3 linked regions of the Homo sapiens genome follow. The protein of the gene in region 1 interacts with the protein of each later gene in a pairwise test. Each region holds a gene or a part of one and is shown in the gene's direction. Other genes may lie near its edges.

What was found. The genes of interacting proteins can lie anywhere in the genome.
Region 2: the proteins of PPL (region 1) and UPRT interact in binary tests that used the Homo sapiens proteins (3 or more experiments, as listed by UniProt).
Region 3: the proteins of PPL (region 1) and PBX4 interact in binary tests that used the Homo sapiens proteins (3 or more experiments, as listed by UniProt).

The regions. Positions count from the first base shown.
Region 1 is NC_000016.10:4,884,126-4,892,833, reverse strand, and holds part of PPL (periplakin), read left to right. Parts: intron 1-620; coding exon 621-799; intron 800-884; coding exon 885-1,023; intron 1,024-1,912; coding exon 1,913-2,106; intron 2,107-2,499; coding exon 2,500-2,650; intron 2,651-3,772; coding exon 3,773-3,856; intron 3,857-4,615; coding exon 4,616-4,732; intron 4,733-5,606; coding exon 5,607-5,699; intron 5,700-6,786; coding exon 6,787-8,708. UniProt on the Homo sapiens protein: Component of the cornified envelope of keratinocytes. May link the cornified envelope to desmosomes and intermediate filaments. May act as a localization signal in PKB/AKT-mediated signaling.
Region 2 is NC_000023.11:75,268,416-75,277,727, forward strand, and holds the start of UPRT (uracil phosphoribosyltransferase homolog), read left to right. Parts: upstream 1-5,669; 5' UTR 5,670-5,839; coding exon 5,840-6,225; intron 6,226-6,247; exon of another isoform or gene 6,248-6,343; intron 6,344-9,312.
Region 3 is NC_000019.10:19,560,570-19,567,752, reverse strand, and holds the end of PBX4 (pre-B-cell leukemia transcription factor 4), read left to right. Parts: intron 1-2,663; coding exon 2,664-2,820; intron 2,821-4,137; coding exon 4,138-4,244; intron 4,245-5,635; coding exon 5,636-5,728; 3' UTR 5,729-6,040; downstream 6,041-7,183.

The DNA.
Region 1 (8,708 bases):
CAGTGGCGAGGACAGGGTGAGCTGATGCCAGGGGGGACGTGGAGGGGCCACCTCCCCCCACCTCCTTTCCTATACAAAGTCTCCCACATCCTCAAGGCAGCCCTCTGAGGCAGTGAGTAGCACTCCAATTTTACAGAAGAGGATCTGGGATTGGAGAAGTGCCATAGCCCCTGATGGGGCCTCAGAGTGAGAGCCAAGTCAGGGCGAGAGGATGCCGGTCTCGGGTGTAGCCTGACCCCACAAGTCCCTTCCTAAGCTGCTGGGAGTCGTCACACCCCCACCCGTGACTGGGTGGAGTCGTAGTACTCACCTCCCGGGGTTGCCGCAAAGATTAAACAGAAGCGTCCGCGTGCAGTGCTGAGGACAGCACAGGCCCGGCAGCTGCCTGGGTGCTTCTGGTGTCACTAGTCCATTCCACCTCAGCGGTTCCCTGGGATGCTCGTGAAAAATACAGCCCTCAGGCTGGGGTCCAGATGCCGGGTCAGAGCCCCAGAATGTGCCAGGCCTCTCCAGCTGCTTCCACTGTGCCTGATGTGGGAATCTGTGCTCACCCTGGGCACATCCTCAGGGGAAGGGGCTGCCTGGCTGTGTCCAAAACTGAGGGGCCCTGGTTCCCACAGAACATCACCAACGAGCTACTGCGGATTGAACCTGAGAAGACGCGGAGCACGGCTGAGGGCGAAGCCTTCATCCAGGCCCTCCCAGGCAGTGGCACCACACCCCTGCTGAGGACCCGGGTGGAGGACACCAACCGGAAATACGAGCACCTCCTGCAGCTGCTGGACTTGGCCCAGGAGAAGTGGGTGGCAGACAGGCAGCATGGAGGTTGGGGTGGGGTCAGGGGGCCAGGTGGGCATCCCCCGACGCCTGATTGGTGCTCTCAGGGTTGATGTGGCCAACCGCCTGGAGAAGAGCCTGCAGCAGAGCTGGGAGTTGCTGGCCACACACGAGAACCATCTGAATCAGGATGACACAGTGCCTGAGAGCAGCCGTGTCCTGGACAGCAAGGGGCAGGAGCTGGCGGTGAGTCTAGGGCCCAAGTCCTGGGAGTCCTTCTCTGAGCAGGTGAGAGCATCTGGCACATCCACCCGCCCGTCTGGATAGATGAGGACACCAGCATCCAGTCTCCCCAGGTTTGGAATGCCCAAATTGGGAACTGCAAATGGAGGCCCACAGCACAAATCCAAGCTATTCACGGGATCTGTGTGACTTACGGGATTTCGGGTGCCAGCATTTTAAGATCAAATATCTGCAATAGCCAGTGTAGTGGCACATGCCTGTAACACCAGCCATTCAGGAGGCTGGGGCAGGATTGCTTGAGCCTTGGAGTTTAAGTCCAGCCGCCTGGACAACGTTGCAAGACCCTATCTCTTAAAAAAAAAAAAAAAAAAAAAAAAGCATAAAGCACATAACAATCCATGTTCCCAGTATCTCTTGCTGAGCAGAGCTGGCATCCTGGGCTGCAGCTCAGAGGGCAAGTCAGTGGGCAGAGGAGCAGCTGCCTTCTCGGCCTGCTTACCTCGCAGTTGCCACGGGCCCCCTTCCCACACTGCCTGAGCACAGGAAACATTCAAGTCTGTGACCTGAGGCCCCTTATTCACACTCCCATCTCACGACTTGCTTTTGCCACAGCCTCATGACCAGACAGTGGCAGGCTGTTCTCGCGCAGGGCACGAGCTGCCTGCTGCAGGGTTTTTAGAAGTTAGCTTTTCAGGGCTTTGTTCATTGTTAAAAAACAGAAGATGGCAGAAGTGACCCAGGTTTGGGATGTACAGAGCAAGGCTCCGGTCCTTCCTACCTGTGGCCTTGCCCACCCTCCTACAGTCAGTGGCCCAGGGGCTTCAGTGGGTGTCATCGCCTGGCTCTGGGAGCTCTGGCCGTAGCACCGCCGTCTCCTCCTCTGCCCCGCCAGGCCATGGCCTGTGAGTTACAGGCCCAGAAGTCCCTCCTGGGTGAGGTGGAGCAGAACTTGCAGGCGGCCAAGCAGTGCTCGAGCACACTGGCCAGCCGCTTCCAGGAGCACTGTCCGGACCTGGAGCGCCAGGAGGCCGAGGTGCACAAGCTGGGCCAGCGTTTCAACAACCTGCGCCAGCAGGTGGAACGCAGGTGAGGGTGCGGTGGGTGGTGGCCATTTTTGTTTTCTGAGAATGCGATCTAATTCCCTCTAAGCAATGCTTTAGCCGTGTCCCACAGATTTTGCTGTTTTTCTTTTTGGTGAGTTCGTCAGATTCTCTGACGGCCCTGTGGTCTCTCTTTTGAGTCATGCTTACCTGGGTCCTGTAATCCACAATGGGCATCTCTGCAAGTCAATGTATATGGACCCACCTGGTTCTCCACAGTCCAACCTGACGTTCCCTAATGACCACCCACCCTGTGTGGGAGATACTTGGGGTATTTCTGGTTGTTACATTTGGTTGTTTCCCACTTTAAAAAAAAAAATGAGGGCTCGGTGAGGCATCTGTTTGCTGTGGCTGAGGCCTGAACGCTTTGCCTTGACAGGGCGCAGAGCCTACAGAGCGCCAAGGCAGCCTACGAGCACTTCCACCGCGGCCATGACCACGTGCTGCAGTTCCTAGTCAGCATCCCCAGTTACGAGCCCCAGGAGACAGACAGCCTCAGCCAGATGGAGACCAAGCTGAAGAACCAGAAGGTGAGATGGCCGTTTCCGCAGCCCCAGGCACACACTGGCAAGGGAGGGTCAGAGGTCAACAAGCCCCTTTCTGGGGAGCCAAGCCTTTGGGAGGTGGAGCAGGGCAGAGGCCTGCCACAGCTGTGTCCTCCCTGGGCCTCAGCTCAAGCTCCCAACACCCAACCCTCTGAGAACAAGAACCGAGTGTGTCGCTCACCTCTCCCAGCTCAGTGCCCCGCACAGGGCCTGGTGCAGAATGGACACTTGGCGTGGGTTGGCTATGTGAGTGAACAGCTACAGAATGAGGAGCCGCCTTTGTGGGGGAAATCCCATTTTCAAAGTTGGGACTCCTGCCTCCCCCATGCCCAACGCAGTGCCTTGGGGTGAGGGAGGAACACGGGAAGCCAATGGCTGAGATGCAAATCCCGGGTCCACCCCATCAGCCACATCCCCACCTCAGAAGCTTTCCTCACTCATAAGCTGGAGGTCACGATGCTTACCTCCTGGCATCGTTTGAAGATTAAATGAGATAATCTAAGTCAGACAGCAGAACAGTGTCTGGTGGTCCAAATCATCAGTAAACATTTGTTTCCTAGCAGAGATAATGATCTTGGCCCTTCTTCACAGAGCCTTAGAACTGCCTTTTGTGGCTGGGCGCGGTGGCTCACACCTGTAATCCCGGCATTTTGGGAGGCTGAGGCAGGAGGATCACAAGTTCAGGAGTTCAAGACCAGCCTGGCCAACATAATGAAACCAAATCTCTACTAAAAATACAAAAAAAAATTAGCTGGGTATGGTGGCAGGAGCCTGTAGTCCCAGCTACTTGGGAGGCTGAGGCAGGAGAATTGCTTGAACCCAGGAGGCTAAGGCTGCAGTGAGCTGAGATCGCGCCACTGTACTCCAGCCTGGGCGATGCAGTGAGACTGTCTCAAAAAAAAAAAAAAAAAAAAAAAAAAAAAAAAACAACAACAACAAAAAAACTGCCTTTTGCAATGAATAAAAATGTATACAAGGGAGCCATTCATCATACTTTGTGCTAGAGAAGAATAAATTCAGATTCTGAGATTTCCAGCTACTGCATCCATGGTTGCTTTTTTAAATTTTTTTTCTGGTTAGTTTTGATTTTTAAACTCTGTCTTACAGAACCTGCTAGATGAGATAGCAAGTAGGGAGCAGGAAGTACAGAAGATCTGTGCCAATTCCCAGCAGTACCAGCAAGCTGTAAAGGTGAGCCGGGAAACTTCCGCCCAAAGCACAAACAGCAGGGGTCTTATTCCACCGTGCCCTGGTCAGAGAAGCAGCAAGCACCGGCCCTGGCACATGGGGGTGGAGCTGGCCATCCGAGGCACTGCCGGCTGCTGTGCAAACTGGCACAGGCTTTTGGGAAAACAGCATGGTACTAGACATGGAATGCTGTAAAAGGGTTTTATACTCTGAAGCAGTAAACACTTTGGGGGAATTTATCCTTAAGGAAAAAGTACAAAAAAAAAAATGCAGGATAAACAACATTGTTGCAACAGCACTATTTACAATAGCAAAACTAGTACGCTGGAAAGGACTGGTGTCCAGTGGAAGGGGAAAGCTGCGTGAATCAGCACACATCCACCTGATGGATTATAAAGTCAGCAAGCTGGTAAACATGAGAAGAGGTGGTGGCAAGGTGAGACAGGGTTATGGTACGATGTTAAAAGCAGCAGCAGAATGTGAAAATCTCTAGGCATGTAGAAAGGCTGGGAGGGGAATTCAGGGGGCACTTCTTGTCTCATATGTTACTGAGTGATGGAGCTATGTACTGCTGAGATATCAGTAATTCTCAAAACCTCCTGGAAATCACTGCAGGGTGCAGCTGTGAGGAAGACCCACGCAGATTATAAAACCAGCACATGGCACAGGGCAGGTCTGGGTCAGCCTGAAGGGGTACAGGAACATGTCTGTCTCTTCTCAGCTGTTTTAATCTCCCCTCTGCCATGTCTCTCCCTCATGCAGGACTATGAGTTAGAAGCAGAAAAACTAAGGTCTCTTCTCGACTTGGAGAATGGAAGGAGAAGCCACGTGAGCAAGAGAGCCAGGCTCCAATCTCCTGCCACCAAAGTGAAGGAAGAGGTGAGTTCCATGGGCCAGGCGGCCTCGGGACTGAGGTGGAGGCCAAGCTGCCCTGCTCCCCAGGGAGCATGGTGTCACACGCTGGCCTCAGAGATGCACACACAACAGGGAAGCCACTGAGAGCCCTCCTGCATGCAAACAGGTTTGGTAAGAGATGAGGAACTTGTTCTAGGGCAGTGACATCAATATGCCTAGAAAGACAGCAAGGCCGGGCGCAGTGGCTCACACCTGTAATCCTAGCACTTTGGGAGGCCGAGGTGGGAGAACTGCTTGAGCCCAGGGGTTGGAGACCAGCCTGGGCAACAAAGCAGGACCCCATATCTACAAAAATATTAGCCAGGCGTGGTGGTGCAAACCTGTAGTCCCAGCTACTTGGGAGGTTGAGGAGGGAGGATCACTTGGGCCCAGGAGTTCAAGGCTGCAGTGAGCTACAATCACACCATGGCACTTCAGTCTGAGTGAAAGAGATTCTGTCTTTAAGAAATAAAAATTTTTGAAAATGCAGCTGAACAGAAGTGTCAGGGTCAGAACCATGGATCTGGGAAGTTCCTGTTTTGCTCACCTCAGTAAGTACAGTGGAGGGCTGATATTAGTCTCCTGTACACACAAGAGAGAACACTGGTGCTCTAAGAGGCAGAAAGACTTGCTCAAAGTCAGTGTGGCCAAGACCCTGGCCTGGATCTTCTGCCTCGAGATCCATTTTTCTCTCCACCGGTGAGGCTACAGTCTAACTCCAGGCAGGAGTGGGCAAGAGCTATGCCTCTACCCCCAAATTCCACACTTCTCAAGAACCACGTCCACGCTGTCTAGCTCTCTGTTGCTTACCCTGTTGACACCTGTTTGTTGACCGCTCTCCTAATCCTCTTCTCTGCAGGAAGCAGCACTTGCCGCCAAGTTCACTGAAGTTTATGCCATCAACAGACAGAGGCTGCAGAATCTGGAGTTTGCTCTGAATCTCCTCAGACAGGTAACTGATCTTAGTAAGAAATTCTACTTCAGGCTGTTCTAACAGGTGACAAATACAGACTCTGTCTTAGAGAAATGGTTTGTGAATTGATGGAAGTGTCCCCTTGCTAACGTTTCTGGGCAGGGCCAATGCAAAGACTGGCCCGAGCCAATGCTTCTACTGACATGAGAACTTATTCAACTCAGTAAACATCTGCTGAAAGTGAATGCTATTTTCAGCTGGGCATGGTGGCTCACGCTTGTAATCCCAGCACTTTGGGAGGCCGAGGCAGGCGGATCACCTGAGGTCAGGAGTTCGAGACCAGCCTGGCCAACATGGTAAAACTCCGTCTCTACTAAAAATACAAAAATTAGCTGGGCGTCGTGGCGCATGCTTGTAATCCCAGCTACTCAGGAGACTGAGGCAGGAGAATTGCTTGAACCCAGGAGGTGGAGGTTGCAGGGAGCTGAGACTGTGCCACTGCACTCCAGCCTGGGCAACAGAGCGAGACTCTGTCTCAGAAAAAAAGAAAGAAACAAAAGAAAGTGAATGTTATTTTCTGAAGTCCATGATGTTGATGACAGCATTGTTTTTTAATAGCAAGACACTGGAAGCAGTTCACTCTTCATCAGCAATGGGCTAAACTGCGGTCTGTCCAGAGAGCGGAAACAATGCTGCTGGTAAATCCTGAAGCAGCACTCTCTGTGCTGAGCTGGAATGAGCTCTGTAAGTGCAGTGAGCAGCAGGAATACCATTTGTGCAGGAGAGATAAACACATGGTACATACTACAGACAGATATTCTTGTGTGAGCACAGATAGCATCTGCAAGGCTGACAGACACGCCCTAGGACGGGGACCAGAGGTGGGAGACCGTGGTTTCATTTTAAACTCTTCCACAGCTCAAAAATGTTTTACCTGATTAAAAAAAACCCCAAACTAGTTGTTTGATCCTTTTTGAAAGTAACCCTAGAACTCTACAACTAACATGAACTGGCACTGAGGGAGTCCCTTGGGGACCACAGGACAGCCACTCTGACCAGGTGGGGACAGGCCCTACATGTGCTGCCAGAGCCTGGCTTTAACCTTGTCTTGTCTTCTCCATCACAGCAGCCGGAAGTAGAAGTGACCCATGAGACCCTGCAAAGGAATAGGCCGGACTCTGGAGTGGAGGAGGCGTGGAAGATCAGGAAGGAACTGGATGAGGAGACTGAGCGGAGGCGGCAGCTGGAGAACGAGGTCAAGAGCACCCAGGAAGAAATCTGGACCTTGAGGAATCAGGGGCCTCAGGAATCGGTGGTGAGGAAGGAGGTGCTCAAGAAGGTGCCGGATCCCGTGCTGGAGGAGAGCTTCCAGCAGCTGCAGCGGACGCTGGCAGAGGAGCAGCACAAGAACCAGCTGCTGCAGGAGGAGCTGGAGGCACTGCAGCTGCAGCTGCGTGCCCTGGAGCAGGAGACCAGAGACGGGGGGCAGGAGTACGTGGTCAAGGAGGTCCTGCGCATCGAGCCTGACAGGGCCCAGGCGGATGAGGTCTTGCAGCTGCGGGAGGAGCTGGAGGCACTGAGGCGGCAGAAGGGCGCCCGGGAGGCAGAGGTGCTCCTCCTGCAGCAGCGTGTGGCCGCCCTGGCTGAAGAGAAGAGCCGGGCGCAGGAGAAGGTCACAGAGAAAGAGGTGGTGAAACTGCAGAATGACCCCCAGCTGGAGGCAGAGTACCAGCAGCTGCAGGAGGACCACCAGCGCCAGGACCAGCTCAGGGAGAAGCAGGAGGAGGAGCTGAGCTTCCTCCAGGACAAGCTCAAGAGGCTAGAGAAGGAGCGGGCCATGGCCGAGGGCAAGATCACCGTCAAGGAGGTGCTCAAGGTGGAGAAGGACGCGGCCACCGAGAGGGAGGTCAGCGATCTCACCCGCCAATATGAGGACGAGGCTGCCAAGGCTCGCGCTAGCCAGAGGGAGAAGACGGAGCTGCTCCGAAAGATATGGGCCTTGGAGGAGGAGAACGCCAAAGTGGTGGTGCAGGAGAAGGTGCGGGAGATCGTGCGGCCAGACCCCAAGGCGGAAAGTGAAGTGGCGAACCTCCGCCTGGAGCTTGTGGAGCAGGAGCGAAAGTACCGGGGTGCCGAGGAGCAGCTCCGGAGCTACCAGAGTGAGCTGGAGGCCCTCAGGAGGCGAGGCCCCCAGGTGGAAGTCAAAGAGGTGACTAAGGAAGTCATTAAGTACAAGACTGACCCTGAGATGGAGAAGGAGCTTCAGCGGCTCAGGGAGGAGATCGTGGACAAGACCAGACTGATCGAAAGGTGTGATTTAGAGATCTACCAGCTGAAAAAGGAAATCCAGGCCCTGAAAGACACCAAACCCCAGGTCCAGACCAAAGAGGTGGTCCAGGAGATCCTCCAATTCCAAGAAGACCCTCAAACCAAGGAGGAGGTGGCGTCTCTGAGGGCAAAGCTCTCAGAGGAGCAGAAGAAACAAGTGGATCTGGAGAGGGAAAGAGCTTCCCAGGAAGAGCAGATCGCCCGGAAAGAGGAGGAGCTCTCGCGGGTGAAGGAAAGGGTGGTGCAGCAGGAGGTGGTCAGGTATGAGGAGGAGCCAGGCCTGCGGGCCGAGGCGAGCGCCTTTGCCGAGAGCATCGATGTGGAGCTGCGGCAGATTGACAAGCTGCGGGCAGAGCTGCGGCGGCTGCAGCGCCGGCGCACCGAGCTTGAGCGGCAGCTGGAGGAGCTAGAGCGCGAGCGGCAGGCCCGCAGGGAGGCCGAGCGCGAGGTACAGCGGTTGCAGCAGCGGCTGGCAGCGCTGGAGCAGGAAGAAGCTGAGGCCCGTGAGAAGGTAACCCATACGCAGAAGGTGGTGCTGCAGCAGGACCCGCAGCAGGCGCGAGAGCATGCCCTGCTCCGACTCCAGCTGGAAGAAGAGCAGCACCGGCGGCAGCTCCTGGAGGGGGAGCTCGAGACCCTCCGGAGGAAACTGGCTGCACTGGAGAAGGCGGAGGTCAAGGAGAAGGTGGTGCTCTCCGAGAGTGTCCAGGTGGAGAAGGG
Region 2 (9,312 bases), on another chromosome or scaffold:
GCATCATCCTGGTACCACAACCTGGCAGAGACACAACAAAAACAGAAAATTTCAGGCCAATACCCCTGATGAACATCAAGGTGAAAATCCTCAATAAAATACTAGCAAACCAAATCCAGCAGCACATCAAAAAGCTTGTCTGTCACGATCAAGTTGGCTTCATCCCTGGGATGCAAGGCTGGTTCAACATATGCAAATCAATAAATGTAACTCATCAGATAAACAGAACCAATGACAAAAACCACATGATTATCTCAACAGATGCAGGGAAGGCCTTTGATAAAATTCAACAGCCCTTCATGCTAAAAACTCTCAATAAACTAGGTATTGATGGAATGTATGTCAATATAATAAGAGCTATTTATGACAAACCCACAACCAATATCATACTGAATGGGCAAATGCTGGAAGCATTCCCTTTGAAAACCAGCACAAGACAAGGATGGCCTCTCTCACCACTCCTATTCAACATAGTATTGGAAGTTCTGGCCAGGGCAATCAGGCAAGAGAAAGAAATAAAGGGTATTCAAATAGGAACAGAGGAAGTCAAATTGTCTCCGTCTGCAGATGACATGTTTGTACATTTAGAAAACCCCATTATCTCAGCCCAAAATCTCCTTAAGCTGATAAGCAACTTCAGCAAAGTCTCAGGATACAAAATCACTGTGCAACAATCACTAGCATTCCTATACACCAATAACAGACAGAGAACCAAATAATGAGTGAACTCCTATTCACAATTGCTACAAAGAGAATAAAATACCTAGGAATAAAACTTACAAGGGGTGTGAAGGACCTCTTCAAGGCGAACTAGAAACCACTGCTCAAGGAAATAAGAGAGAACACGAACAAATGGAAAAACATTCCATGCTTATGGATAGGAAGAACCAATATCGTGAAAATGGCCATACTGCCCAAATGAATTTATAGATTCAATGCTATTCCCATCAAGCTACCACTGACTTTCTTCACAGAACTGGAAAATCTACTTTACATTTCATATGGAACCAAAAAAGAGCCCACATTGCCAAGAAAATCCTAAGCAAAAAGAACAATACTGGAGACATCATGCTACCTGACTTCAAACTCTACTACCAGGCTACAGTAGCCAAAACAGCATGGTACTGGTACCAAAACAGATATACAGTCCAATGGAACAGAACAGAGGCCTCAGAAATAACACCATACATCTACAACCATCTGATTTTTGACAAATCTGACAAAAACAAGCAATGGGAAAATGATTTCCTATTTAATAAATGGTGTTGGGAAAACAGGCTAGCCATATGCAGAAAACTGAAACTGGACCCCTTTCTAACACTTTATACAAAAAGTAACTCAAGATGGATTAAAGACTTAAACACAAGACCTAAAATCATAAAAACCCTAAAAGAAAACCTAGGCAATACCATTCAGGACATAGGCATGGTCAAAGACTTCATGACTAAAACAGCAAAAGCAATGGCAGCAAAAGCCAAAATGGACAAATGAGATCTAATTATACAACAGAGCTTCTGCACAGCAAAAGAAACTATCATAAGGGTGAAAAGGCAACCTACAGAATGGGAGAAAATTTTTGCAATCTACCCATCTGACAAAGGGCTAATATCCAGAATCTATAAAAACGTAAATAAATTTACAAGAAAAAAACAAACAGCCCCATCAAAAAGTGGGTGAAGGATATGAACAGACACTTCTCCAAAGAAAACATTTATGCAGCCAACGAACATATGAAAAAAAGCTCATCATCACTGGTCATTAGAGAAATTCAAATTGAAACCACAATAACATACCATCGCACGCCAATTAGAATGGTGATCATTAAAAAGTCAGGAAACAACGGATGCTGGAGAGGATGTGGAGAAATAGCAACGCTTTTACACTGTTGGTCGGAGTGTAAATTAGTTCAACCATTGTGGAAGATAGTGTGGGGATTCCTTAAGGATCTAGAACCAGAAATACCATTTGACCCAGCAATTCCATTACTGGGTATATACCCAAAGGATTATAAATCATTCTACTATAAAGACACAGGCACACATGTGTTTATTGTATCACTATTCACAATAGCAAAGACTTGGAACCAACCCAAGTGCCCATCAATTTTAGACTGGATAAAGAAAATGTGGCACATAGATACCATGGATTACCATGCAGCTATAAAAACAGGATGAGTTCATGTCTTTTGCAGGGACATGGATGAAGCTGGGAACCATCATTCTCAGCAAACTAACACAAGAACAGAAAACCAAACACCTCATATTCTCACTCATAAGTGTGAGTTGAACAATGAGAACACATAGATACACGGAGGGGAACATCACATGCTGTGGTCTTTCAGGGTTGGGATGCTAGGGGAGGGATAGCATTAGGAAAACTACGTAATGTAGGCGATGGGTTGATGGGTGCAGAAAACCTCCATGGCACATGTATACCTATGTAACAAATCTGGACGTTTTGCACAAATACCCCAGAACTTAAAGTATAATAAGGAAAAAATAAACACTTTATGTGAAAAAAAAATCCTTAGGAATATATCTAAACAAGAAGGTGAAAGACCTCTACAAGGAAAATTCAAAACACTTCTGAAAGTAATCATAGACGACACAAACAAATGGAAACATAACCCATGTCATGGACGAGTAGAATCAATATTGTGAACAGGATCATAATGCCAAAAGCAATCTACACATTCAATGCAATTCTCATCAAAATACTAATATCATTCTTCACAGAATTAGAAAAAACAATTCTAAAATTCATATTGAAGCAAAATAGCCCATATAGCCAAAAAGAATAAATCTGGAGGCATCATATTACCTGGTTTCAAACTATGCTATAAGGCAATAGTTACGAATACAGCATGGTACTGGTATTAAAATATACCCACAGACCAATGGAACAAAACACAAAATCAGAAATAAATCCAAATACAGCCAACTGATCTTCGACAAAGCAAACAAAAATATAAAGTGGGGAGAGGACACCCTTTTCAACTAATGGTGCTGGAATAATTGGCTAACCACATGTAGGAGAATGAAACTGGATCCTCATCTCTCACCTCATACAAAAATCAACTCAAGATGGATTAAGGACTGAAATCTAAGACCTGAAACTATAAAAATTCTAGAAGATAACTTTGGAAAAACCCTTATAGACATTGGCTTAGCCAAAGATTTCATGACCAGGAACACAAAAGCAAATGCAATAAAAACAAAGATAAATAGCTGGGACTTAATTAAACTAAAGAGCTTTTGCACAGCAAAAGGAACAGTCAGCAGAGTAAACAGACAACCCATACAGTGGGAGAAAATCTTCACAATCTATACATCTGACAAAGGACTAATATCCAGGATGTACGAGGAACTCAAATCAGAAAGACAAAAACAAACAATCCCATCAAAAAGTGGGCTAAGGACATGAATAGACAATTCTCAAAAGAAGATATACAAATGGCCAAGAAATGTATTAAAAAATGCTCAACATCACTAATTATCAGAGAGATGCAAATTAAAACCACAATTTAATACCACCTTACTCTTGCAAGAATGGCCATAATCAAAGAAATTAAAAAATAGTAGATGTTGGCATGGATGTGGCAAACAGGGAACACTGCTACACTGCTGGTAGGAATGTCAACTAATGGAAACAGTGTGGAGATTCCTTAAAGAACTAAAAGTAGAACTACCATTTCATCCAGCAATCCCATTACTGGGTATCTACCCAGAGGAAAAGAAGTCATTATACAGAAAAGATAGTTGCACACGCATGTTTATAGCAGCATAATTCGCAATTGCAAAAACGTGGAACCAACCCAAATGTCCATCAATCAATGAGTGGATAAAGAAGCTGTGAGATATATATATATATACACATATATATGTGTATATATATGTGTATATATACATATATATGTATATATATATATACACATATATATATGTGTATATATATATATGTATATATATATGGAATACTACTCAGCCATAAAAAGGAATGAATTAATGGCTTTTGCAGCGACCTGGATGAGATTGGAGACTAATATTCTAAGTGAAGTAACTCAGGAATGGAAAACCAAACATTGTATGTTCTCACTCATAAGTGGGAGCTTAGCTATGATGGATACAAAGGCATATGAATGATACAATGAACTTTGGGGTCTTGGAGGAAAAGGGTGGGAAGGGCTTGAGAGATAAAAGACTACAAATAGGGTACAGTGTATACTGCTCGAGTGATGGATGCACCAAAATCTCTCAAATCACCACTAAAGAACTTACTCATCTAACCAAACAGCACCTGTTCCCCAATAACCTATGGAAATAAAAAAAAAATTATAAAAAAATCTGTATAGGCATGTTAAAAAAAGGAAGGACAGAAATACCATTCAACTCAGCAATCCCATTACTGGGTATATACCCAAAGGAACATAAATTATTGTTTTATTAAAGACACATGCACACATATGTTAACTCCAGCACTATTTACAATAACAAAGACATGGAATCAACCTAACTACCCATTAATGATAGAATGGATAAAGAAAATGTGGTACATATACACCATGGAATACTATGCAACCATAAAAAATAATGAGATCATGTCCTTTGCAGGGACATGGATGGAGCTGGAGCCTATTATCCTTAGCAAACTAACACAAGAACAGAAAACCAAATGCTGCATGTTCTCACTTATAAGTGGGAGCTAAATGATGAGAACACATGGACACATAGTGGGGAACAACACACACTGGAGCCTACTGCAGAGTGCATGGTGTGAGAAGGGAGAGGATCAGGAAAGACAACTAGTGGGTACTAGGCTTAATACCTGGGCGATGAAATAATCTTTACAACAAGCCCCCATGACAGAAGTTAACCTATGTAACAAACCTGCACATATATCCCTGAACTTAAAAGTTAAAAAAAAAAAAAGATTCTTGTATCCCATCTCGGATCTACAGAATCACAATCTCAAAAATGAGCCGTAAGAACCTGCATTTTAACAAGCTCTACAATTATTGTGGTACATACTGATGTTTGAAAAGTACTGCCCTAGACACTCTTACCTCAGGCCGTTATAGTGAGTCCATACACTTAAAAATAAGCGTCTTTCCAAGTACTTTAAAGATTCAAAATGATAGTGGATCTGAAATGCCGCCTGAGTCCCCATGACAACGTGTACACTGTGGGGCCCAACCAATAAAGATAAGAAAAGCTTTGGCGGTCAAGCATACTTGGGAAGCTGCAGTTTCTAGAACAGTCTAGTAGAGGACAGCCTCTTCAGCAGCCTGCTAGGCATTTTTTTACTTCTTCCTTCTGTTATGCAGACAAGCTAACTGAAGATGCGGTTACTGAGATATAATTTCTCTGCTAGGTCACAAAGTCTGAAAACATGGGCCTTACGTGTGTAACTGTGTATCATCACCTGCCACCCCCAGTTTTTCCTGGCTCTACTAATCACCCAAAGTTCTGAATGCAGAAGCCCCAGGGGCCCCCGGAAGATCCTTCAAGCTGGCATCCTTGGCCTCGCTGCGGGGGCTTAGCTACCTGTGGGAACCCACGTAGCAAGGGTGACTCAAAGGGTTAACAAGCAGTGGCGCCGCAGAGTGGCGGGGAGTGCAGCCAATAGGGTGTCTAGGCAGGCAGTACGTCTGGTGTGGGCGGGAGTGAGCCAAAGTGTGCTAAAGGAAACCAACAGCGGCCTAGGGGTGAAAGGACAGCCAGGGTTAGATGTTCTGAGGAGGCGGGAGCAACCGAGAGAGCACGTGAGCATCTGTCCTTTCTACCCGTTCCTCTTTATCTTTAGTGTTCAGTAGCAGCGGGGATAGCCCGGGGCCCGGTGTATGGCCACGGAGTTACAGTGTCCGGACTCCATGCCCTGTCACAACCAGCAAGTAAACTCTGCCTCAACCCCAAGTCCCGAGCAGCTGCGACCTGGCGATCTGATCCTGGACCACGCAGGGGGAAACAGAGCCTCCAGGGCCAAGGTGATTCTCCTCACGGGGTACGCCCATTCTAGCCTGCCGGCCGAGCTGGACTCTGGGGCCTGCGGCGGCTCCAGCCTCAACTCAGAGGGCAACAGTGGTAGTGGTGACAGTAGCAGCTATGACGCACCAGCTGGCAACTCCTTCCTAGAGGACTGCGAACTCTCCCGGCAGATCGGGGCGCAGCTTAAGCTGCTGCCTATGAATGATCAGATACGGGAGCTACAGACCATCATCCGTGACAAGTAAGCCAAGAGCGGAAGGGGAAAGGGAAGTGGAGGGTCTTGCAGGCTGTGGGCGGGGATTGGAAGTAAAAGGGCTAAGAGACAGTGTTCTTGGCCTTGGCAAACTTTGGAGATTGGGGTAAGACCTTTTATTTGGTGTGTGTGTGTGTGTGTGTGTGTGTGTGTGTGTGTGTGTGTCGTGTAACTCGAACGCCAACCTTCTCTTTCCAAGTTCCGGTGTCTAACATCACTTTGGGTGGGGAGGAAGACTTTAGGTAGCCTCTGGGCTCTTTGTCTCTCCCAGGAAAGACAACTCCTTGGCCATTCCAGGCAGGTAAACTCCCCTATACTATGTGGGCAGTGCTTGTCCACATGGTAAACCTATAACCCAGAAATGGTTACTATCCAAGGTTATGCACTACCACCAATCACCTCAGGTTCATAAATAGAAATAAAGCAATTTCAAGGAAATTCTATTCAGGCCCTGACCCTTTAGTATTTGCTACTGCAAACAAGGTCTTTTAGTCTTGGAGTTCAGGTTTACTTGATCACATGAAAGCTTATCGTCCAACTCTTATCATTTTTCACTGTAAACTCACAGAACATAGTTAATGGATCAAAGGGAGCCTAAAGGAGCCTTTGGCCCTTCCTAATCCCACAAACCAATGTAGCCAGAACTTCATGTTAAAATGTAATTTTGAAATTTCTAAACCTACGTTGTAAATGGGTTTTCTCCAGGGAAATATGTACCATGATGAACTACAGCTATTTTCTTTATTGGCAGCACTTTAAATGAGCAGCATATCAAAACACCCCTTTTTTAGTGGCAGGGGTTGGGGGGACATGCCTTGATCTTTTAAAAATGGCTACTGAATGACAGATGCCACTCCCTAAACCAGACTCTAGAAACCTTGTCTTACACTATTGTAATAATACTGTTTCTCTGCTTGCAGTTTTTCCTCTCTTCCACATGCACCCATACATTACTGTACAATCAATCTTCATAACATACATCTTTGATTCAGTAATTGCCCTACTCAGCAACCTTCTTTGGCTTCTCAGAGCCTACCAAATAAAGTCCAGGATCCTTAGCTTGATTGATATTTTTGAGACAGGATCTTTCTCTGTCACCCAGGCTGGAGTGCAGTGGTGAGATCACAGCTTACTGTACCCTCATACTTCTGGGCTCAAGTAATCCTCCTGCCTTAGCCTCCTGAGTAGCTGGGACTACAGGGACATGGCACTGCCCCCCGGCTAATTTTTTATTTTTTTGTAGAGATGGAGGTCTTGCTATATTGTCCACGATGGTCTTGAACTCCTGGCCTCAAGCAATCCTCGTGCCTCGGCCTCCTAAAATGTTGGGATTACAGGTGTGAGCCACCATGCCTGGCCCCCTTAGCTTGGGATGAAGGCCCTTCTTCATAGTTCCTAGGAACAATTCTGAAACATATCTGTTTCTGCTCTCATCTGGAATTCCCTGTGTCTCCTTTATGTACGTTCAGGATACTTATTCTTCAGGGTGAAACACAGCATTAAATAATTGTCCACCTCTGCCAAGAAGCTTCCCTTTAATCATTATTCCTGGCTTATCTTCCCTGGTCTTTTTAATGCAAGATTCACCTTCTTTTTCGTATATTGTTATTTTTGTATAGATCTTATCCTGCCTATGACATCTTGAAGGCAGAAATCTTTTACATTTTTGAATGCCGGCCATGCCTTGCAAATAATAGATGCTCAATTACTAGAGTTTTTTTGTAGCTCTTAAAATTATATTTATGAAACTATACTATTTTACTCTTTTTAATGAATCAATATTGAAAACTACTGTGGTTATGTTATCTAATAGACAAAATAGTGATCCTAAAAAATAGGAGGCATAGGTTTGCTGTAGTTGTGGTAGGGTAGGGGCAGCCAAAATAAATCTTACATATACAACAAAGAAAAATAGATGATGATTCTTGTTTCTATAGAGCAGAAGTTACTACGCTTGGGTCTTCGACTCCCTCGTACCAGTAGATGGGTTCAGGGCTTTAACAAACCCTCATAAATTAACTGGGAAATTTTACTCATATGAAGATTTTTAATAGTTGTTTTTAAATAACATCTTTATTGAGATATAATTCACAGACCATACAGTTCAAGAATTTAAAGTGTATAATTCAGTGGTTTTAAGTATGTTCACAGCTGTGCATTCATCACCACAGTTTTAGAACATTTGTCATCACCCCAGCAAGAAACCTCATGCCCATTAAACAGTCACTCCCCATTTTCACCCAACCCACCCAAAGCCCTAGACAATCATTAATCTACTTTCTATTTCTAATGGTTTGCCCATTCTGCACATTACATATAAAAAATGTCTATTCTGGACATTTCATTATCATACAATATGTGGTCATTTTGTGACTCATTTCATTTAGCATGTTTTCAAGGTTCATCCGTGTGGGATCTTTCCTTTTTATGATTAAATGATACTCCATTATATGAATATACCACAATTTGTTTATCCATCAGTTGGTGAACATTTGGGTGGTTTACCACTCTTTGGCTATTATGAATAATGCTGCTATGAACATTCACATATGTGCCTTTTTTTTTAGAGGGTGAGGATTCCTTAGTTTTTTAGATTTCACAAAGTGTCATGATAATGTAAAGGTGAAGTGCCCTTGCTATAGCGCTTGGAGAGGGAATGGCATTTAGCATTCACATATGACAAAATAATACCTGATTATATGTCATTAGTCAGAAAAACCTGGGTTATGTAGTAAACCTGGGTGTAAGTGGAATCCTTTTTTTTTTTTCCTCTAAGTTTGGAAGGAGACAGCAGGATCCAGAGAAGTGATTTAGGCAATATGTTTAGCATCTCTGTGCTTCACCTTTATCATTTGTAAAATGAAGATGTTGGTAAATATCACATGGAGCCCCTGGGAGGCTAAAACAAGATACTGTTCATGAATATTCATTATGAACTGTGAAGAGCTGTTCACATTTAAGGAATTTCAAGCCTCATGTTTGGATTTGTGCATGCTTCTAATTGCATTCATAAGTGCTGTCTTCTTGATTTGTCAGAAGACAGTAAAATGAATTTAACTCTATGTGGAATTCACT
Region 3 (7,183 bases), on another chromosome or scaffold:
CCACCAGTGTCCTCTGTGGAACTGGGGGTGAAAGAGGGAGACACTAAGACCAAGAGGCTAAGAAATATTTCCGAAGGTTTTAACATGGAAACAGTAAGTCCAGGCAGCCTATGGCAGCAAGCCAGGTCCAGGCCATACCCCCGTGGCAGCATGAGTGTGTGGAACAGGGCCTGGGTGCCGCCCTCCCACCTGGGCAGGCACAGCCCCACAGCCTCTATGGCAGCAGGAATGGCAGGTGCTGACCCACAGCATGGCTTGCTGCATGTCACCACAGCCCTCCCTACTTTGCAGTTGGAGGGGCTGAGTTTCTAGTCCTTCACCACCATGCTCTGCTCCAACCCAGGCTAAGTCCAGTCAAGTCTCTGTGACAGAGAGCAATTGGAACCCCTCGGGGTCACGCAGGCAGCAAAACATCCTGAGGTCATAGTCACATATGACTTTGCTCATCGGGATCTGCTGTGGTGTCAGAAACAAGGCCAGAGCTGGAGCAAGGGGCTGCGCCTCTGGGTCTTCAAGGCCCCTGGAGAAGCGTGAGACATTTGGCCCCCAAGGAACAATTGTCTGGAGGACAACCAGGGCTGCTTCAACCAGGATGGAGCCTCTGGGGCCTCCCATGTGGATCAAGAGAAGGCTGCTCACACCCCCGGGGTAGGCAGACACTATGTTTGGAACAGAGAGCACACAGACAGGGATCCTTCTTTTTATACTTAACATTGCAAGGATAATGTAAGTACACCAAATGTTGGCCAGGCATGGTGGCTCATGCCTGAAATCCCAGCACTTTGGAGGCCAAGGCGGACGAATCACCTGAGGTCAGGAGTTCGAGACCAGCCTGGCCAACATGGTGAAACCCCGTGGCTACTGGAAATACAAAAATTAGCCAGGCTTGGTGGCACATGCCTGCAATCCCGCTACTGGGGAGGCTGAGGCAGGAGAATCATTTGAACCAGGGAGGCGGAGGTTGCAGTGAGTTGAGGTCGCACCACTGCACTCCACACTCCAGCCTGGGTGACAGAGTGAGACTCCGTCTCCGAAAAAAAAAAAAAAAAAAAGTACAAAAATTAGCCAGGCTTGGTAGCACGTGCCTGTAGTCCCAGCTACTGGTGAGGCTGAGGCAAGAGAATCACTTGAATCTGGGAGGCAGAGGTTGCAGTGAGCTGAGATCGCACCGCTGCACTCCAGCCTGGGTGACAGAGTGAGAAAAAAATGTTTGAAGTAGCAAAGGTCATCCACAATCCTCTTCCATCCCTCAGCTGTTTCATTTCTGTGTGTTATTATACTATACGTTTATTTTACTTGCTTTGGGATACTGAAATGTGGCCCTGGATGGACGTCTCCATGCCTGTAGGAAGGCGCTGGCCCTGGGGTGCTCACCCATGTGAATCTGCCCAGGGGACATTTTTGTTGTCACGACTAGAGAAGGGAAGTGCTCCTGGCACCCAGTGGGTGCCAAGGATACCGCTCAGCACCCTGCAGTGTACAGGACAGCCCCCACAGAGCAGATGGAGCCCAAGCATCAGCAGTGCCACCAAAGGTGACAAGCCCCTCCCTGGGGGACTCCAGTGCCAGTTTGCAGTCAGAGCTGGGCTGATTCCACCTTGGCCATGGACTAGCTCCTTTTTCTCCTGCCTCTGCTTTCTTACAGCAGGGACGATAACAGCTGCCTCCCAGGTCCTCATGAGGATGAGGCAGAATGATATATGAGGCTGGGCCTGGAATCCCAGCATTTTGGGAGGCCAGGGCGGGAGGAACTCTCAAGCCCAGGGGTTTGAGACCAGCCTGGGCAACAGAGCGAGACCCTATCTCTAAAAAAAAAGAAAAAATATATTTTTTTTTCTGAGACAGGGTCTCACTCTGTTGCCCAGGCTAAATTGCAGTGCGATCTTGGCTCACTGCAACCTCTGCCTCCCAGGTTCAAGTGATTCTCCTGCCTCAGCCTCCCGAGTAGCTGGGATTACAGGCATGTGCCACTGTGTCCAGCTAATATTTGTATTATTAGTAGAGATGGGGTTTCTCCATGTTGTCCAGGCTGGTCTCGAACTCCTGACCTCAGATGATCCCCCCACCTCAGCCTCCCAAAGTGCTGAGATTACAGGCGTGAGCCACCACGCCCGGCCAAAAAACCTTTTTTTAATTAAAATTAAGAAAAATATATGAATATATGAGAAGTGCTTATCCTAGCACCTGGTACATTCCAACTACCCCTTCAGAGTTCACCTTGTTTTCATTTGATAAGTTTGGGATTCGATCGCAGTTACTGGGTCCCCAGGTCTCCCTGGCTCTCACTTTTCCTGAAGAGAACACGGAACGTAACCTGCCGCCTGCTGCATGGCAGCCAGAGGCGCTGTCCCTCCCGGCCCACCTCAGACAGTCTTGTTTTCCTTCCAGCCCCTTCCCAGGTTCAGGTTCCAGCAACATCCAGTTTTAGGCAGCAGAGTTCTAAGACACGCCAGCTCCAGGGTGTCCTCAACCCATGTGGACATCTCCCTGGGTCCGTGGTTCAGAGGGCGCCACCTTCTCAGTCCCAGACTCTTCATAGCCCCAGGGTGCAGTGTTGTCTTCTAAGGCAGTGGGAGCAACGGGCACCCCAGGGAACCCACAGACTGCGTCGTGTCTCAGAAGTCGCTGGGTCAGCTCCTCCAGTGACTCCTGTGTGTCCGCAGGTCTCTAACTGGTTTGGCAACAAAAGAATCCGGTATAAAAAGAACATGGGGAAGTTTCAAGAAGAGGCTACCATTTACACGGGTAAAACGGCTGTGGATACCACGGAAGTTGGGGTCCCAGGGAACCACGCCAGCTGCCTGTCAACACCTAGCTCCGGTGAGTGAGGCTGGCCCAGGGACAGTCATCTGTACCCATGTGGACGGCCACTGAGCTGCATCTGGGGAGGCCACAGTGGGACCACATCTCCCTTCCCCCAGTGGTCAACTCTGTGTAACTCTTTCTTCTGTTTCAACTGTGAGAGTTCTGTTCCTCTTGGCCATGATCCCAACCAACAGATACCTGTGCTTTGGGGACAGAATGGCGATACTAATAAGAAAAGACATGAAAGGTCTGGGTGCGGTGGCTCACACCTGTAATCCCAGCATTTTGGGAGGCCAAGATGAGTGGATCACCTGAGGTCAGGAGTTTGAGACCAGCCTGGCCAACATGGTGAAACCCTGTCTCTACTGAAAATACAAAAAAAATTAGCCCGGCATGGGCTGGGTGCAGTGCCTCACACCTGTAATCCCAGGCCGAGGCGGGCGGATCACGAGGTCAGGAGATAGAGACCATCCTGGCTAACACAGTGAAACCCCATCTCCACTAAAAATACAATTCACAATAGCAAAGACTTGGAACCAACCCAAATGTCCAACAATGATAGACTGGATTAAGAAAATGTGGCACATATACACCATGGAATACTATGCAGCCATAAAAAATGATGAGTTCATGTCCTTTGTAGGGACATGGATGAAACTGGAAATCATCATTCTCAGTAAACTATCGCAAGAACAAAAAACCAAACACCGCATATTCTCACTCATAGGTGGGAATTGAACAATGAGAACACATGGACACAGGAAGGGGAATATCACACTCTGGGGACTGTTGTGGGGTGGGGGGAGGGGGGAGGGATAGCATTGGGAGATATACCTAATGCTAGATGACGAGTTAGTGGGTGCAGCACACCAGCATGGCACATGTATACATACGTAACAAACCTGCACATTGTGCACATGTACCCTAAAACTTAAAGTATAATAATAATAAAAAAAAAGAAAGAAAAAACAAATTATCTGGGCGTGGTGGTGGGCGCCTGTAGTCCCAGCTACTTGGGAGGCTGAGGCAGGAGAATGGTGTGAACCTGGGAGGCAGAGCTTGCAGTGAGCCAAGATCGTGCCACTGCACTCAAGCCTGGGTGACAGAGCGAGACTGTCTTAAAAAGAAAAAAAAAAGACAAGCCATGAGGGGACATGAGTAGTGTGGTGGGGAGGGCCCGCTGGCCTGCCTGGGTGGGGGCTGAGGAGCAGAGGCCGGATGCTGAGGAGGGGCAGGAGCCACATTCGAGGCCTCCTGCCGGCTGAGGGGCTGGGTGGGTTCCACCTGAGGAGGCGCCACGACTCTGCCCACCCCGGCTCCCATCTCTTCCAGGCTCCTCTGGACCCTTCCCGCTGCCCAGCGCTGGGGACGCCTTCCTCACCCTGCGGACTCTGGCCTCTCTCCAGCCTCCTCCTGGGGGAGGCTGCCTGCAGTCCCAGGTGAGTCTCAGGCACTGTCCCACAGCGCCCAGGTGGGTGGTAGGTTCTCAGAAAGGGTCGTCTTGTCAGCCACCCCTCGGCCTTGGGGCAGCTTCCCCAGAGGTCCCAGCAGCCACACAGGCCATGCTGCGCGGCCACCTCTGGGGCACAGCTCTGCAGGGCCCCACTCTGTAATGACTGTGCCCTCCCCCACCTCCACTTGTCACCACGGCAGCCGCTGGGAACAGTCAGTGGGGATGAACCCCAAGATGAGGGCTTTGGCTGTGGAGGGGAAGGGCACCTCCTAGAGGACTGTGGGAGGACATGGTGTCCTTCCCTCGAGAGGGAGGGGCAGGCAGCCAGCAGAGGAGGCCGGAGGAGAGATGGGGCCTTCCCTCGGGCTCAGACCTCAGTGCCGCAGCTTGGCTGGGAAGGCAGCGAGTGGGGACCGTCTTGAAGACACTGAGGAGGCCCAGGTGTCATGTGCCCAGCACAGGCACGAGGCTGTGTGTGTGGTGTGTGCCAGGGCACTGCAGAGCCGGGTGCCCCTCCCAACTCACCACTCTCTCCCAGGGGTTCAGAGAACGGATGCCTCCTGTGCTGTCTGTGGGGTCCCACCTGGTCCTGGGAAGCACACGTCCCACACTGTCCTGCTGTGGCAGCTGCCCCCCATCACCATGCAGCCCCCAGCCAGGGACACACGTGAGGGGCCTCACCTTGCCCTTTGCACCCCTGGGACCTGACTACGCGCCAGCAGCTGTGTGTCCACCCCAGTTCAGAGCAGAGTGCCCCCAGGTGGTGCACCCGTCTGAGCTGCTCCCACACTCACGGGCAGAGCAGTCCCAGCCACTTCCTTAACCTGTACCGTGCCCACCATAGTGGGGGTGGGTCCTGTGGACAAACGTCTTAGCGCCGTTGGACGTGATGCCGTCTCTGCACTGCAGACAGAGCCCCCACCCCTTATGACAAGTGGTTGCCTCCCACCCTCCTTGCTGCCCAGCCAGGCCAGTGTTGGGCCAGGTTTCAGAGCCCCTTTTTCCCACCGAGTCTCACCATGACGCTCCGGGCGTCATCATGGGCTCCAGGCCTGACCTTGCCTCCCTGCCCCTCGCCGGGCAGGAGCCCTTGTTGTACCCGATGCCAGTCAGTCCTTTGCCTAAGCCCCAGGGAAGCCACTAGAGGCCAGTTTTCCTGCCGGGGAAGCTCGTCCATGTCCCATGTCAGGTGGCAAGGCCAGCTGTGACCCAGGACCGACCCCTCCATCCCTTCCCTCCTCCACTGAGCTGGAGGTCATCTGTGGATCTTTTCCAAGCCTTCCCAGGGACCCCTGGAGGCTCCGCCTGCAGCACGTGGGCTGGGTAGTCACCAGTCTCACGGCCACCCACTCTGATGCTCAGTCTCTGTCGTTTCAGGCCCAGGGTAGCTGGCAGGGGGCCACCCCCCAACCTGCAACTGCCTCACCTGCTGGAGACCCTGGCAGCATCAACTCCAGTACATCTAATTAAGTTTGGGGGATAAGCAGGAAAGAGCGCTGCGTGAGCTGCCATGTATCGCCAGCCGTTGCTTTGTTACTGAACGTGCCGCCGACGACCTCAGAAAACCCAGATGGGTGGTGGTGCCCATGAGCCCCTGCTCCTCAGCCAGGCCCGTGGCGCCGGCTCATGTGTCTGCTGCGACTCGAGATGGCCTGAAACGCCACTCATTCTCCCACTTCAGTTCGTTTTTTTGACAGTAATTTTATGGTAACGCTATGAATTGAATTGTCTGTTCTAGGACTGGGCACAGATTTTCCCATTAAAATTTTTGACTTATTTTAATTCCGATGTCTGTTTGCCAGATTTGTTTTGGGTGGTAGTTGACACCGGTCACAGCTGCAGTGTCATGTGTGCTGTGATTTTGCCACTCACCTGCGCCGCTCAGGCACAGACTCCCAACACTGTCTTCTGTGGGACCGTATCATTCTGTTCTGATTTTAAAATGTCCTGGCTGGGAGCAGTGGCTCATGCCTGTAATCCCAGCACATTGAGAGGTCGAGGTAGGAGGATTGCTTGAGCCTAGGAGTTTGAGACCCGTCTGGGCAACATAGTGAGACCTCGTCTCTACAAAAAAATTCTGCTTTCAGATTTTTTTTTTTTTTGGGGGACAGATTCTCGCTCTGTCACCCATGCTGGAGTGCAGTGGTGTGATCTCGGCTCACCACAACCTCTGCCTCCCAGGTTCAAGCGATTCTTCCGCCTTAGCCTCCCAAGTAGCTGGGATTACAGGTGCCTGCCGCTATGCCCAGCTAATTTTTTGTATTTTTGGTAGAGATGGGGTTTCACAATGTTAGCCAGGCTGGTCTTGAACTCCTGAGCTCAAGTGATCTGCCCGCCTCAGCCTCCCAAAGTGCTGGGATTATAGGCTTGAGCCACCGTGCCCGACCGCCCCCCACCCCAAAATTTTTTTAATTAGCTGAGCATGGTGGCGCATGCCTGTAGTCCCAGCTACTCAACAGGCTGAGGAGGGAGAATCACCTGAGCTCGGGATGTTAAGGCTGCAGTGAGCTGAGATCACGCCACTGCACTCCAGCCTGGGTGACAGAGTGAGACCCTGTCTCAATTATATATATTTATTTTATGTTCGGAGCTCAATTTTACTGGGAATTAGTTTTGCACTTTTTTCGGGTTTTGCTCTATTTGCTCTTTTGCTGTTTTTTTGTTTTGTTTTGTTTTGTTTTGTTTTTGAGACAGAGTTTTGCTCTTGTCGCGCAGGCTGGAGTGCAATAGCGCCATCTCGGCTCATTGCAACCTCCACCTCCCAGGTTCAAGCGATTCTCCTGCCTCAGCCTCCTGAGTAGCTGAGATTACAGGCGTGCGCCACCATGCCCAGTTAATTTTTTTGTATTAGTAGAGACGGGGTTTCACCATGTTGGCCAGGCTAGTCTCGAACTCCTGACCTCAGGTGAACCACCTGCCCTGGCC